Regions from separate parts of the Homo sapiens genome. Here region 1 is linked to region 2. Evidence: fine-mapped expression QTL. A gene starts in region 2. The other region holds a variant in brackets. All regions are shown on one strand. Distances are from middle to middle.

Region 1 (8,340 bases), 120 kb before region 2:
TGACTTAAATTAAACAATTTAATATAAATACCTAGGATAGTGCCTGCAGATTATAAGTACTCAAATAGCTGCTAGCTAAAAAAAAGACTTCTATCAATATGACTCTAAAGTTGTAATTTAATTTTCATTTTGTACGTTGTTAAAGCCCTTACTTTCTTTTGAAACACTTCTCTTAATGTGTAGTCCACGCCACATCAAATCCGTGCCCTGTATGAGCAGCACAATCTGCCATGCTCATCCAGAGATGGCTGGCCCTGGCAGATGATTTCAGTTTTGACAGCTACCCTACTTGATGCCCAGGAAATGAAGTATCATACTTTTCTAAAAGTGCTGGCAGAATAAGAGTGAGCAAATCCCTTGAAGTCTCCTCTAAAAGGTGAAAACCTCCAGCTATATAATGTTCTGCTAGTCTCAAGATCTTGAATATTAGTTTTAAAAGAGCCCCAGAAGGAAGAACTATTAAATTGCTCCTATAGCTAGATGCAGTAGCTGAATATTTCTTAGAGCTAGCACTGAAGTCCACTCCCTATTAGACTGGGCTGGGTCCTGAAGCAGCATTTGCTCTAGGAAGTAATGACTGAGTGATTTCAAGAAAAGATTGAAAAGCTCAAAGGGTACGTTTGCCTTTAGCTGGTTGTAAAACATTTGTAGAAAACCATGGCAACCTCTTAGAGTCAATCTTCAAACACATGTTAAACTTGCTTCTCAAGGGGAATTTTAACACTACAAGGAATAGTTAGAACAGACAAAATTCCACCCTAAAGCAGAGATTTCCAACATAATTCAGGATATGCTTGTTTCTATCCAATAGATAAAATGGCTGATTATATTCAATTAGCCTTTTGTGACCAGTGGGTTTGGGTTTTAATTCATTTACATTGAGAGAGAAAAAAATTCCATTTGCTTAAGAAAAATGCCCATTCAAAACAGAACTCTCTGTTTTTCTTCCAATTCCTCTGGAGAGTTACATAACCTCTTCTTTTATATGAGTAGTTTCCCTCCTTTGTCATATATATTTTTTAAAAATCAGTAGATTGAAGGCAGGCCCAGTTCCCCAGTCATTGTTGTCTATCAAAAATCCCCTCCCATATTTCCAAATGCCTCTCCCCATCCCCCACTGTCTCCATCTGAATGCCTCTTGGAAAGGAGAGCTATCAATACATTTAAAATGCTTGGCATGGTAACCTGGTTAGTCTACCCTACAAGCCAAACAAATAAAAATCCCCTTCCATAGTAAAATGGTTTGGTTTCCTTGAAACTTCCCTTAAAAATAAGCTGACTGAAGAGAATGATAAAGATACACACTTTTGTAGGGGTGAAGGGGAAAGAGCAAAGAGATTGTTTTTAAAGAATTATTTTGCATAGCACCTAACACATCCAGTACTCAACAGTTTCTTTTGAATAGAATATATAGAAGTCTCTCTGGCCAGGTGTGGTGGCTCACTCCTATAATCCCAGCACTTTGGGAGGGCAAGGCTGGTGGTTCACTTGAGGCCAGGAGTTCGAGACCAGCCTGGCCAACATGGAGAAACCCTGTCTCTACTAAAAATACAAAAATTAGCCAAGTGTGGTGTAATCCCAGTGCTGTGCAGCACAGTAGCTGTAATTCCAGCTACTGGGGAGGCTGAGGCAGGAGAATTGCTTGATACCAGGAGGCAGAGGTTGCAGTGAGCCGAGATCGTGCCACTGCACTCCAGCCTGGGCGACACAGCAAAACTCCATCTCAAGAAAAAAAGAAAAAAAAAAAAAAAAAAAAAAAGAAAGGAGTCTCTGGCCCCAAGTTAAAAGATATTACATAAATGGGGGATGGTATGTGGATATCCAAATGCTGTATTTTTTTTTTTTTTGGTCAAGATGACTGTGAGTTCTAGAGACATGACATTTTTACTACATAAACACTGTCAAATAAAAGACAAGTCAAATCAAATGTCTTGTACTCTAACCATTTCAAAGCTAATCACTACTTGAATGTGCCCCTCAATTACATTTTGACTTTTGCAATAATTGCTTATTCAAATATTAGTTGGTCCTCAGAAAGATTTTGTTTGCAGTACTGCAATCAAATTTTAAGTTATGAAAAGAAAGCCTTACCAAATAATTGATGACATAAAATCTGTCATATTCTCTGTTCTTAGGATTAATCTTACGATGCTGTTTTTTCCTCATGTGATCTTTAAGTGTATTTTTGTCCCTGAAGGTCTTCTCACAGTACAAGCACTGCAAACTACAAGAAATACACAAACACTGATAAACAAGTCTCTTGTATAGTTGCTGCAATAATCCTTTATTATTATTGAGTTTCATATTTATTCATTTTAGGTTACACAGCATCTTCAAATGGGATATACCATCCTTGTCAGAATCCCCCCTCACTTTATTCATTTGGCTTTGTAGAGTGCATAGTATGGTGTATTTTGTAGTCAGCTAAGTTGACCAACTTTGCTATTCAGTTAAGACTGTGACAAAGATAGGTAATATCCAAAAATTATTTTGGTTCTTTACTAACTGAATTACCTATTCTAAAATAAGTATGTAGGTATGTTCTTCAATTAATTATAATGACTTGCACTGACTGCACCCATTGTATGTAATAATTAGTACATGGTTTGGGATATCCTGTGAGCTGATTTGCAGGGTTTAATTCCTTGCTCCAGTGCCAGCTAGCTGTGGGACTTTAAGTTACTTCCCTTCTCTGTTGCCATTTTCTGATTTCTAAACTGAAGATAATACCAACATTTTAGAGATTTTTAAATGATAATTTCATATATATATATTTATTGAGCACTTACTATGCACTATGAACTGTGCTAGGTATTTATTCATGTATGTGAATAAGATAAATAGTAGCTGTTACTACCATATAATTCTCATATACCTTCTGCTCAAATATTTCCACTGACTGGGCATTCATTACCTAATGAAGCAGTGATTACCAGTTTTGAGCAGATTATTAACAAAATGTCTTTCTCATACTAAGCCTGACAGTTGATACAACATGTATTATAATTGCTACTCAGTAAAAAGTAGAGAGTTCTACTTTCTGGAGCCATATAGTGTCTAAGTATAATATATTTTACATGGGAAACTCTCAAATGATTGCAATCTGTTATTGTTTCAATTTTGAATTTGTTTTTATCTCTACTAAACACCTTTTCATCAATTTCTTATGCCAAAGAATATATTCCAGGGCATAATAATATTCTTTTGTAGTATATTCTTTTATAGTTGACAATTTATGGGTGATAAGCTGATTATATATATTCATTATTGCTAATCTTGCTAGAAGGCACATCTGGTCTTATTTTATAGGTAGTCGTTTAACAAAAGGGTGAAGGGACTCGATTTAACATAGTGGTGACATCAAAATTTGAGTTAAAAATTTCTTATAATTAATCTGTATTACTTGCTTCCTCTTATTTATTTATTTATTTATTT[T/ATTTT]TGAGACAGAGTTTTGCTCTTGTTGCCCAGGCTGGAGTGCAATGGTGCAATCTCTGCTCACTACAACCTGTGCCTCCCGGGTTCAAGCGATTCTCCTGCCTCAGCCTCCTGAGTAGCTGGGATTACAGGCATGCACCACCATGCCCGGCTAATTTTGTATTTTTAGTAGAGATGGGGTTTCTCCATGTTGGTCAGGCTGGTCTCAAAATCCCGAGCTCAGGTGATCCGCCCACCTCGGCCTCCCAAAGTGCTGGGATTACAGGTGTGAGCTACCACACCCGGCCCTTATTTTTTTTTCTATGTTGTTGCTCTCAGTGTTGTGGGTTGAAGCACCACACTTGTTAGTATTTTATTTAAATAAAGAAAACTGGGTTCTCAGAGAAAAAATTTTGGGCCCTTTCCTAGAAAGAAAAGTGGATACGTTTTTGAAAGTCATTTTGGTGACCTAAAGAATTTTCTTCCTTATTTCAACAGGCTAAGCTCCAGATATGGTTGCCAGAATATGACCTTGAGGAAATGGAGTATTATATACAAATGTGAATGAAAACCAAAAGGCAGAAGAATACACACAGTATGCTACGTTTCACACAAAATTAAACACCATTCCATAATTTGACAATATATTTACCTTATTGAATATGTAGACAAGTTACAGTGAAAAGTAAAGGAATTACAATTACAAAATTAAGAATAGTGGTTTCTGGGGAAATACTAATGAGGAAAGACACACAGGGAGATTCAAAGGAATTAACAATGTTCTATTTCTTAGGCTAGACAGTGAGTATATTCTTCATATCCTATACGGCATACATTGTATGATATGTATATTGTTTGGTATATATGACATAGTGTATTTGAAAAATTTAAAAAACACCAAAGGGCAATATGATCTAGACAAAATAAGGACTGTCGTACAAAATGTGAACTCCTCCAACATGGGAAATTCCCACTTCTTTAATTACTCTATTAAATTAATTTAAAAATATTCACAACAGAGTCCAAGATTAAAACAGCTTTAGGCAGTGTTTCATAAATCAGTACTTACTTGTCAAGCTTTTTCTGTAATGTACACAAAAATTCATTGCAGTTTACAATGTTGTCTGGCAATCCAATGTTGAAAGCATGTTCTCTGGCCATGTGGTTCAAAATAACAGATCTAGGAAGAAATTTGAGCAATTAGGATTATTCACAAATCATCTAAGAACACATTTGGGTTGGAATAGCATTCACATAATAAAAACACTAATTAGAGGTATAAGCAAGTGCTAAGCACTAACACAAAGATTTCAGCTATTAAAGAGTGACATTATAAAGTATGTAAGTGTACACAGTCACATCAGTTCTGTAAAGGGATACCAAAGTTTGTTCTACTATCTGCTGCTTGGCTACACTCTATAGAAGAATCAGGTTCTGTCCTTTAAACCAGGGGTATCGGTCCATGGCCTGTTAGGAAGCAGGCTGCACAGAAAGAGGTGAGAGGCGGGAAAGTGAGCATTACCACCTGCGCTCCGCCTCCTGTCAGATCAGTGGTGGCATTAGATTCTCATAGGAGCGCGAACCCTTTTGTAAACTGTGCATGCGAGGGATCTAGGTTGTGTACTTCTTATGAGAATCTAATGCCTGATGATCTGAGATAAAACAGTTTCATTCTGAAACTGGTCCCTGGTGCCAAAAAGGTTGGGGATCACTGCTTTAAACTATTAAATTAACTGTGCTGCTTCTACTTTTCCAATTCATCATGGAGACGAGTAAGAGGCAACTGCCTAACAGAAAATACAACCAGCTATGACCTAAGATCACAGGCATTTAGCCAGAGTATCATTGGACAATGACCTGGAACCCACAGTTAACAGGTCTATTAAATGCAAGGGCTGTGATAACCTGCAAAACAATGACCAACTTCTTGATTAATTTATACAGAAAAGGACAAATGTAATTATGTAACTTTTACATAGCAAAAAAGCATATGTGTATAGTATATTCTACAGAGCTTTTATCACAACTTTAGTTCATAAAATAAAGGTGATTGTTTTGGAGAGCCTCATCAGTATAAGTACCATTGATAGACTATGCATAGTGACATATCATATGGTTTTATCTAGATTATTTAGACACTTACCTGGTCCCCCCCCAAAAAAATGTTTTCAGTGTTTTTTTTCCCCTTGAGAAAGTGAAATAAAGAAATAAAGCAAACATTTCTATAAAAATGTTTGTTGACTTTTTTTTTTTTTAACTATGTAAGAGATACATTTATTAACCTTGTGGTTAGTATGCTCATTTGTCTCACTGCCTATTACTGATAACTTTGACTAAAACTACTTGTTGGGGTAGTTCACAGTGCCTTTTGGGCCCACAAAGGTTTTCCCAGGGGCAGCCCAGACAGAGCTAGACCTTTCCAGGGGTTCCAGACCTGAGGCTCAGGCTGTGGAAGAGTTCAGGTGAAAGCAGAGCTGAGAGCCTCTTGTAGGCAGTGTGGTAGGTGTGTGTGTGTGTTTTGGGGTGGGGGAAGGGTGTCAGGCAGAGGGTAAGAAAGTTCCCCCTATCCCCGAGGCCATGTTGGGGTAAAGTACAGTGCCTCTGGATTCAGGGAGGTTCTCCTAGAGTGGCCGAGCCATAGTTAACATCTGCCTAGAACTTCCAGGATGAAGATCTAGAGCCTAGATTGTGCCTGGGTGCTGTCAGAAATGGTATCTGACTCAAGGGGTATGGGTGGGTTGGGAGGTTTCCCTCACCCTCAGTCTATCTAGGATCAAAATATCTTGCCATTAAGAGTCACACTGAATGTACTCAGGGGAGCTGAATCCGGCTCTCAACCTCTCTGGGGCTCAAGAATCTGGCATCTAGAGTCTGAGTTACGAGATGAGAGGCCAGTGGTTGGCTCCTGGGGTAAATGAGTTTGGAGGCTTGGCCAGTCTCGAAGACTCTGTTCAGGTAGGCCACAGTGGCTTCTGGGACCTAAGAGGATTGGTTCAGCAAGGATTTTGGCCGCAGCCAGCAGCTTGCTGGGAGGGATGTGGGTGGAACAGACTGACAGTCCTTAGAACTTGTTTCCAGGCTTATAGGCCAGACCTTCCTGACTCCAAAGTGTTCCCCCAACAGTAACCAAGCATGTCAGGTCTACCCAGGGCTTTCAGGCCTGACACCCAAGCCTTGGAATGGACCAAGAGCTGGCTCAGGAGGTATAGGTGTACTAGGAAGGTCCCCATGATCTCAGGCAATGTTGCCCCAGAGAACAAGCCCATGTGTGAGCCTAGGCTTGCTCTGAACTTTTTTGGGGCCTGCCAGACAGGAATACAGATATTGAAAGTGAGGGAACGAGGGCTAACAAGCAGCTGTCTCAAAGCAGATATGAGTGTTGGGAGGCTACCCTGGCCACATACTTAATTGCTACCATCCCTAATGCCTTCTGGATCAAGGACAGTTCTACCACAGTGGGCCAAAATTGAGCCAGGTTTGCCAAGGGTTCTATGACTGACATCTAAGAGCTGGAAGGAGACTGAGTGAAGGCAAAGTCAGTGTTAGGAAGAGGGTTGGTGGGGTTAACAGTCTGCACTTGGTCCCATGCTCTGAACTGGTGGTCCTTGATGTCTTCTGGTTTCAGGTGAGGTTCCCCTAGGAGTGGCCTAGCCTTAGCCAGGACTACCCAGGATTCCAAGCCTGATATCCAGGCTCTGAAAAGGGGGCCAGGTACAGATGGAACTGGCAGCAGGCTCAAGAAGGGGCTGGCTGTCCTCTCCAATATTATGGTAGTTTATTTTACAAGTCAGCTTGACCTGGTTAAAGGATGCCCAGATAGCTGGTAAAAATAGCATTTCTAGGTGTGTCTGTGAGGATGTTTCTGGAAGAGATTAGTATGTGAATCAGCAGACTGAGTAAAGAAGATAGCCCATACCAATGAGGGGAGGCATCATCCAAGCCATGGGGGCCCAGATAGTTGAGCTGGGAAATTCATCTTCTCTTGTCCCTAGGTATTCAAGTTCATGGTTCTCTGGCCTTTAGACTCAGACTGAATTTACCACTGGCTTTCTTGAATCTCCAACTTGCAGATGGCATACTGTGGCACTTCTCGGCCTCCATAATTGTGTGAGCCAATTCCCATAATATGTCTCCGCTTATATATCTATATATAATATTGGTCCTGTTTCTCTGGAGAACCCTGACTAATACAAGTACCTAAGTGGTTTGCTAGCTAATTCAAAATTAGCTTGATTCAGCCTATTAGTCTGAGGTGAGAAGGGAGGAAAGGCTTCACCCTTGTAGCCACAGTTGCTGGTTGGTAAAGGGCCAAGAAAATCTTTGGGGCTTTGGAGTAGAGATGGCACCTTATGTGATCTGCTTCATGTCAGATTTTGAAGTCCTTTAATTCTTGATCAGCCAAGATGATTCCTCAAATTGCTGAATTACTTCTTTAATTTTTAAATTAATTCCTAATGTCAACTTGCTTTAATTTATGGGAAATTAAATGCATAACAGTTTAAATTATTATTGCAACTCCTTTCTTTATAAACTTAATTTTATTATTAATGAACTAACTGTACTTTGAGTACCCATACAACTATTTTGTTTTTTACTTTCAGTGCAATATGCAATAAATTACATCAGATATTCAAACCTTTATTATAAAGTACAGTTTGTGTTGGGCAATTTTGCCTATCTGTAGGCTAATGTAAGTGTTCAAAGCATGCCTAAGGTAGGTTAGGTATATTAAATTTTTTTTGACTTACAATATTTTAAATGTACAATGACTTTATTGAGATGTAACCCCACTGTAAATCAAGTAGCACTGGTATTATATTTTTTCACATTCACAATGGTCCTTAAAAGCATGTAATAACTATAAATACATAATACCTTTTGGGCTGAAATGAAGTTTTACTTAAAATATTATTTCATGTACTTTTCCTT
Region 2 (8,340 bases):
GCTGTAGCTATGAATAGAGGGAACAGGTTCAAAATATACTACAGGCGCAGAAAAATAAGGCTTGCTAACTGATCAAATTCAGTACCTGAGGGCGAGTTAGGAATCAAGGATGCTTCCTAGGTTTCTAGCTTAGACTTGATGCCATTTATTGAAATAGGAAATACAAGAATGAGGAGTTTACATCACCTGCTACCCTTCCCTCTTTCTTCCAGAGACATCACACATGAGATAGTAAGTTCTCTGGAAGATAAACATTACCAAAATCATCAGATAATAAGGTCCAGAATCCAAGCATTAGCAAAATCATCAACTACTAAACACCCATTCGGAGGGAAAAAAGTTGACTTTGACAGAATATTACAATATGGAGATACAGATTAATACTCAGAAGAAATAGCCTCAGTCACAAAAGCCTCCTAAATGTATTATTACTGAATTGTGCTACCTTGCTGATTTTTAAAAACAGCAAAAGAACAAATGCCAATGACACCACGTGAGGGATGCTGAATCTATTTATTATCTGTTCTTAATTTTAGGAGACAAATTGAAATTCTGGTTACTGTTCAGATGTATGTAAAGCAGTGTCCTTTAACCCTTGACCTAGTGTGCCAGGTGCAGTAGCTCACGCCTGTAATCCCAGCACTTTGGGAGGCCGAGGAGGGTGGATCACCTGTGGTCAGGAGTTTGAGACCAGCCTGGCCTAGATGGCGAAACTCTGTCTCTACTAAAAATATAAAAATTAGCTGGGCATGGTGGCACACGCCTGTAATCCCAGCTACTCGGGAGGCTGTGGCAGGAGAATCACTTGAACCCGGGAGGCGGAGGTTGCAGTGAGCTGAGATCGTGCCACTCCACTCCAGCTTGGGTTACAGAGCAGGACTCTGTCTCAAAAAAAAAAACAAAAAAAAAAAACAAAAAACAAAAACAAAAAAAGCAAAAAAATCCTTGACCTCAATGTGGGGACTTTCTTGGAGAAGGATGGAGCCACAGAAGTCTGGCAACACAGTGGTCTCAGTGAGTGTTGCACCTGCCTGCACCCCACCCACTGACTCACTCTAGCAGAGATTTTGAGGAATTGCAAGGATTTCTATAAAAAGTCTTCCTAGGCCTCACTGTCCCAGGGTATTAAACACACAGACTAACATTTTAATCAGAGCAAGAAGAAAATCTCTTAAAAGAAGCAGTTTTCAAGAAGTCAAAAAGGTGTATGTTTTTTAAAAATTTTATTTTTATTATACTTTAAGTTCCAGGGTACATGTGCACAACTTGGAGGTTTGTTGCATATGTATACATGTGCCATATTGGTTTGCTGCACCCATTAACTCGTCATTTACATTAGGTATTTCTCCTAATGCTATCCCTTCCCCATCCCCCAACCCCACGACAGGCCCGGGTATGTGATGTTCCCTGCCCTGTGTCCAAGTGTTCTCATTGTTCAATTTCCACCTATAAGTGAGAACATGTGGTGTTTGGTTTTCTGTCCTTGCGATAGTTTGCTCACAATGATGGTTTTCAGCTTCATCCATGTCCCTACAAAGGACATGAACTCATCCAAAAAGGTGTATGATTTTTACAGGGAAAGACATACTTGATAACCTAAATGACTGCCTAACAAAAAATATACTTTTAATATAAATATTTACACCTAAAATTTATATCACACCTTGTTGGCTTTGAAAAGATTTTGGAAAAAGTAACAGAATGATACATAGGTTATTAAGCAGAATTTTTAATGACAACTTTATCTTATAAAAATGACATAAAAAATCAACCATTAATTTCTCCTGTTGACTGCTACAAGTCAATGAGAATACTGGGTATTTCTCACCGAGGGTGAGAAATTTTTTTATGTTATAGATACCGCAAATTCACTACTACTCAACACTTTTATTGAAAACAAACTGGAATCAAAAACTAAGCTTTCTATCAGTTACTTAATTCAATCTACTAGTCATTGAAACATTGGTCCTGGATTATTTCCTCAAAGTTTGTGACAATATGGGGGAAAGAACACTCATATACTACAGGTGGCAATGTATGCTGAATATATTTTAAGAGGAAAGTCTGGCATCTGTCAAAATTTTAAACTTGCATAACCTTTGATCCAGCAATTTTCTCCCAAAATATACAACCAGTGGGCAAGAATATATGTACATAAAGTTGTTCATTGCAACATTACTGAAAAACTAAAGTCACACTATATGTTCATTTATAAGGGAATGGATAAAGAATGGCACAATCATATTTTGGAATATGATGGGCACAGTCCTTAAAAAAAAAGGAAACAAATGTACTGACGTGGAAGGGTTTCTATGATAGACTGCTGAAAGAAAAAAGAAGGTTGCAGATCTTTCAGTTTATATAGATTTATCCCTTTTTATTATAAAAATCAAATCATAGGCCGGGCGCGGTGGCTTACGCCTGTAATCCCAGCACTTTGGGAGGCCGAGACGGGCGGATCACGAGGTCAGCAGATCGAGACCTCCTGGCTAACACGGTGAAACCCCGTCTCTACTAAAAATACAAAAAACTAGCCGGGCTTGTTGGCTGGCGCCTGTAGTCCCAGTTACTCGGGAGGCTGAGGCAGGAGAATGGCGTGAACCTGGGAGGCGGAGCTTGCAGTGAGCCGAGATCGCGCCACTGCACTCCAGCCTGGTTGACAAAGCGAGACTCCGTCTCAAAAAAAAAAAAAAAAAAAAAAAATCAAATCATACAGACGTGTGTCATATAAGAATATGGTGGTTTAACAGAATACGGATTGTAGGATTAAAAAAAAAAAAAGAAGAAGAAGAATATGTTGGAAAGAATATGTACCAAACTCTTATCACTTAATACTCGGGGAGTGGTGCTGTGAGGTGAGGGAATTTTCATTTTTTTTACTTCATACACTTCTGAATGGTTTGAAGTGCTTTTAAAAACTTTTAAACTTGTAAAATTTAAAAATAAATATTTTTAAATATTTTACATTTTTGAAAGGCATATCCTTTTTTTTTGTTTTGTTTTTGATACAGAGTCTTGCTCTGCCTCCCAGGCTGGAGTGCAGTGGTGGATCATGGCTCACCACAACCTCCGCCTCCCGGGCTCAAGGGATTCTCCTGCCTCGGCCTCCCGAGTAGCTGGGACTACAGGCATCCGCCACCACGCCCGGCTAATTTTTGTATTTTTAGTAGAGACGGGGTTTCACCATATTGGCCAGGCTGGTCTCGAACTCCTGACCTTGTGATCCACTCGCCTCGGCCTCCCAAAGTGCTGGTATTACAGGGGTGAGCCACCGTGCCCGGCCATTTTTTAAAATAAGTTAGACTGTGAGATAAATTCACCAGTTTAGATCTTAAACTGGTAGCCCTCTGGAACTTTGAAAATCTAGGAAACCGTAATAGTCTGTTACCATCAGATAGCCCAATATATAACCAACCCAAAAATAAACCATTAGGGTGTTAAATTCAATATTTAACTCAGGAGACTACCAAAGATTTGTTTGGTAGAGGTACTAAAATAATTTCAGAGTAGGGAGTTCCACTGTTGGGAAGTGGGAAAAAACTGCACTTCAACTCTGTGCCGCTGAGGTAAATACTTAAGATGATATCAATTTAACTGTGAAAGCAAAAACAAATAAATCGAAAAACAAAGTCGCAACAGTCTGAGAACTATATTTAAGCCCCAAACCATGTTCATCAGAAAAAGACAACTTGTGCTAAATTACACATCAAGACAAAAATGGGGTGGGGGGAATGGGGGAGGGATAGACTAAAGGTAAAAGAGTCCTAAACACAATCCACCTGCAGCTTTCAAAATTTGGTTTTTTATTCCTACAGTGGATCAGAGGACAACCTGAAAGTCAGGTACAGCCAAAGTTGTGATGGTTTTCAAAACTCTTTTCAAATGTTCTTTGAAGCCACGAGTGCAAATTATCTATCACTTTCCTTTTCTTTCTCTAAGGACCCAGAGACTGGGAAGATCTCTCAGGCTCCACATACAAATCTGAAGAACACCCAGAGCAGTTAACCATCTACAGGGAGGTTGTGAGATACACACACTTTCCCTTCAGAGGTCACCTCAGCCACAAACTGGGCAAATCTGTAGAGTGGAGAGCAGTGACCACCAGTCTGCGACTGGAAATACTCCGGAAGCTAAATAAAACACACCTGCGAGGTCAAACCAAGCAAACCAAGGCAGTGTACTGGTGAGGAGAAAGAGCTGCTAATCCCAAAATTATAAACACACGCGCGCGAACCAGATCTGAACCAAACCCACTCAGCAGCTAGCTCAAAGCTGGGAGCTCCAAACCAGAAGACAAACGCTCAGGGAGCTTCCCCGGCGGAGGGGAAGGCCATTCCATGGCATTTTCTCCGCCATCCCATGGCATTTTCTCCGCCATCCCCGGGCAGCCCCAACCAAGTAGCCGCCACCGGCTCCAACCCATCCCGCTGGGCCACCACCCGTGGGGCCCAGTCGAACCCAGGTGGCCCCAGAGCTGAAGGGCTCCTAGGGTCAGACCAGAGGTCCGTTGCACACCCGGTCATAGAGAAAGGAAGACACATCAGCCGCGCCTCCGGGGCACCGTACTCACCCCCATAACCTACACCCCCGACTGTGCTGCAGCTCCCATCACGGTCTTCCTGCATTCGGGCGACAGCCCCCTGGGTCTTGGAAGCAGCCATTACCCGGCAGAAAAGAAAAGGGAGGGCCGCAGGGCGGGTCGGAGGCGGGGTGGCACCAGTAGAAACGCTACTGGAGGCGAACTCCCCGTCGACGTAATGTTTTCTCCACACCTACGCCGCGCTCTGGACCAATAGGACGCAATCAGTAAAACTGAATCCCCGCCCCGAACCACATTTGCCGCGCCCACTTCCGGGATGGGGAGGCCAAGAACTACAATTCCCAGCGTGCTGCGGGGCCCTGGGACGGGAGGGCTGGACTAGGCGCTGGCGGGCGGGGGTGCGCCGGAGAGTGCCCCGGCGTGTTCGCTTAGTTCAGTGAATCAGAACAATGACTGCGCCGCCGGGTACCCGGGAGCGCGTCGGAGGACTGTGAGCAGCCGCCGCCGGGAGAGCTGCGGGCGGCGCAGTGTCAACGCTGGGCTCGGGAGCCTCCAGCGCAGATCCTGCCCAGCGCCCGCAGCCCGCGCGAAGCCGCTGGGCTCCGGCACTGCAGCGCTGCTCGGGGACTGTGCATTGTTGTGAGCCGGAGAAGGGGCGCGGGGATTACAAAGCCTGAAGACCCCGGAGCCCCTTTAGCCATGTGGATACCTACGGAGCACGAGAAATACGGCGTGGGTGAGTCTCCGCGGGGCGAACTTTTATTCTGCTCTGGCCCGAGCGAGTGCGCATTTCTCGTCCTTGCCCCCGCGCCCCTCTCGCTCCGCCCGGTTGAAAATGCCTAATCCTGGCATCGCGCAGCTGGTACGGGGCTTTGCCGAGCCAGCTCCAGGCAGAGGGCTGCGCACCAGGCTCTCGCCCCGCACCGCCTGCTCGGCGCGCCCCGCACTGGTTCCCGAAGCGCCGGGACAGCTTGGGGGAGCGCGCGGCCGGCCCGCTAGCTTCGGGCTCTGCCTGCGGAGTTTGGAGTGGCGACTGGGCGTGTGTGTGTGTGTGTGTGTGTGTGTCAAGTTGGAAGAGGAGGCGAATGGGGTTTCTCTCCTTCCTTACCCTTCTTCCCCAAAGCGACAGGGAGCTGCAACGGTTCCTCTGGGTGGAGAGGGAGACAACAACACTCGGGCAGAGAGAACACCCCCAAAACAGTAGGGAGGCGCAAACCCTTCCCTCTGGCTCGGATCGACATTCCCGGAGTGTGGAATGTGGCAGGGTCCTGGAGAGAGCCGCTCTGACAAGCTGAGCCCTCTCTGACCCTCCTCCCTCTCTGCGATCCCGGATTTATGGGGTGTGTATGTTGCGGGGCGGGGGCATTGGTAAATTTCAACATCTGCGCCGCTCGGTTCTTTGGTCTTTGGAGAAGAACGGGTATTTCAGCAGTGTTTTTACTTCTGGCCACCCTCTCGACCCCGGGTGAGCGCAGTGGGGGCGGTGTGGCGGTACAGGGCTGCTGAGTGATAAATGGGGAGGGGGATCGGAAAGCCTGGTTCTTGGGGGCAGGGAGATAGCTTTTAGGAAAGCATACCCTGACACTGGCGTTCGGAGAAAAAGGAACAGGATAGCTCTCGCTGTTCTGTGTAAAGGTGAACAACAAAGGACATTAATGTTGACTGATGAATACAGGAGTCTCCCTTCCTTTTCCTCCTCCCATTTCAGGCGGGTTACAGTTCCCGTTTTTGTTGTTTGATTTCAGCTGGGTCGCCCCTTGACAGTTACTCCTTTTAGGGTTGAGACTATTAAGAAGCCAGGCTCTCCGACAAGGCTGCAGCCGGCCAAATGCAATTATAACCTCCCAGAAGGTCTAACAGAAAGCATTATGGATTTTACTAACACTCTTTATTTCCTATAATGCCCTGTTCTGCCGACTGGTGTACTTTGTGTGTGTGTGTGTGTGTGTGTGTGTTTTAAAATTGAGGACAGGTCTAGTGATTTAGGTGATGTGTAGATATCTGCTTATGTTCTAAATTCATTTTCCTGCAATTTAAAACATCTGGAAAGCCTTCCCAGGGAGTCGTAGTCCGAGGGGATTTTTGTTTTTTTTTTTCCCAACTTTGCCTGGGGATAGGACTTTGGGGTCCATTGAAAGGACTGTAGGATTCAACAAAATCATTCCCACATTTCACGTTAGCTTCCATTCTGGATTGTGACTAATTACCAAGACAATAGTTTGACCTGAACCCACCTTTGGGAAAGGTTTCCAGCTTTCCCTCCTTCAAAGTGTCAGAGGAGTCTTTGCCAGCCTCTTTACTGGCAAGGAGTAGATGTTAGTAGTTGTTATTTTCGTTCTCCTCACTCTTCTCTTTTTTGGGAGGTAGATTAACCCTTGCTAGGGAAAAAGATAGTCCCTTTGCTGGACTGGTGAGGGACCCGAGGGCATCGCCTCCTAAGCGGCTTTAACACTCAGTGCAGGAAGCTCAGATCCATCCAGGCAAAACTGTCCTGCTTGGAGTCGATCCCAGATGTTGCTTTCTTCCAAGTGTTAAATTATACAGATTATGGATGGGATTTATTTTCTTGATTTCTTCATGTGCCAGGTCACAGCTGGGGTGCTGGTATCGATTAGTTCCTCTCTTGCCTTTCTTTACAAGCGGTGGGCAGAGGCTTAAAAACCACTCTGGGATTTCCTGGAATGGCAAACCGGATATTATCAGTCAAATGTTTTGGGCTGCAGCAGACACCTCGGTTTTGGGTGGTTGTGATTTGATTGCAGAGTAGGGGAGGCAGAAGGGTGTGCTCACAATTGAGAAAAAGAGGTTGAATGAGATGAAGGACGAGAGCAGAGAGAGGGTCTTTTGCCCCAAATTACTGCTGTTGTTCTCAATATCACATGTGCCAGAATGTTAATTAACCTTTATTATTAATTTTTGAGCATTTGGATTGTGGAATGCTTAGCTGTTTTTTAGAATCCATCTGTTAGGCGTGTGTGTGTGTGTGTGTGTGTGTGTGTGTGTGTGTGTGTAGTGAAATTTTTGCTAGGATACTTATGTGTGGACTTTATTTTTCACCATGGAGGGCACTGTTTATAGCTGCTTATATTGCAAGTTGTTTGTTTTTTCTTTTAACCTTGGTTAATGTTTGTGTTTTTCTCATGTAGTTCTTACAGATGTTAAAGAAAAGATCTTATGGGCACAGATCTTTGTTACCAAGTGTAGTGGTAATTTAGTTTCTTCATTCTTTGAAATAAATCAGTCTTTGTAACAGAATATGTGACGTTTTAGTATAAATTATATATTTCTGCAAAGGTACTTTTTATATACCCTCATTTATGTATGAGATAATTATGCTTTTATATACTTATGATTAAATTTTAAGCAGCATACTGTAAACATGGGTAAAATTAGTTAAATTTTATATCTGTAATTAAATGTATCGGAGATGGAAATTCTTTTTCGTAACTGATGTATAGGCACCGTCCCATTTAATGAATGATTAAATTCATTAAAACAACGAAAAGTCAGTCATAAGTGTTCTGATTTTAGGAAAAGGTATAGTGATGAAGTTATAGTTCTGAGGAACAGGGAACCTTGTCTTTTAGAAATCATGTTAAGAGGCACAGTGATAGGCAATTTCACCTTAGGAGATTCTAGTTAGCTCTTGATTCTGGGCTAGACACTGCTGCCAGCTGTGTAACCTTAGGTAAATCACTTAGCCTTTCTGGGTCCCAGCGTCTGGGGCAAGTGTTAACTAAAGCCTTCCCTGGTACTAATTTTGTAGAGCTCTTCCAACTAACTGTGTTCTTTGGTTAGAA

What was found. PIP is the estimated chance that this variant, and not a neighbour inherited with it, causes the effect.
Region 1: its variant is fine-mapped to the expression of ZNF277 in whole blood (INTERVAL, PIP 0.91).

The regions. Positions count from the first base shown.
Region 1 is chr7:112,323,968-112,332,307 of GRCh38, reverse strand. It overlaps ZNF277 (zinc finger protein 277), which reads right to left. Exons shown (of 12, transcript NM_021994.3): 6 at 4,481-4,591; 7 at 2,092-2,224. It overlaps ZNF277-AS1 (ZNF277 antisense RNA 1), which reads left to right. Exons shown (of 3, transcript NR_186626.1): 3 at 3,910-4,114. Among named protein-coding and RNA genes, the nearest start is that of ZNF277-AS1, 22 kb to the left of the region's middle. The variant T/ATTTT (reference allele first, on the strand shown) is at 3,436.
Region 2 is chr7:112,203,038-112,211,377 of GRCh38, reverse strand. It overlaps ZNF277 (zinc finger protein 277), which reads right to left and starts at 4,683. Exons shown (of 12, transcript NM_021994.3): 1 at 4,571-4,683. The coding sequence starts at 4,661. It overlaps DOCK4 (dedicator of cytokinesis 4), which reads left to right and starts at 4,979. Exons shown (of 53, transcript NM_001363540.2): 1 at 4,979-5,276. The coding sequence starts at 5,240. RefSeq lists an enhancer at 4,468-4,587 and a silencer at 4,758-5,107.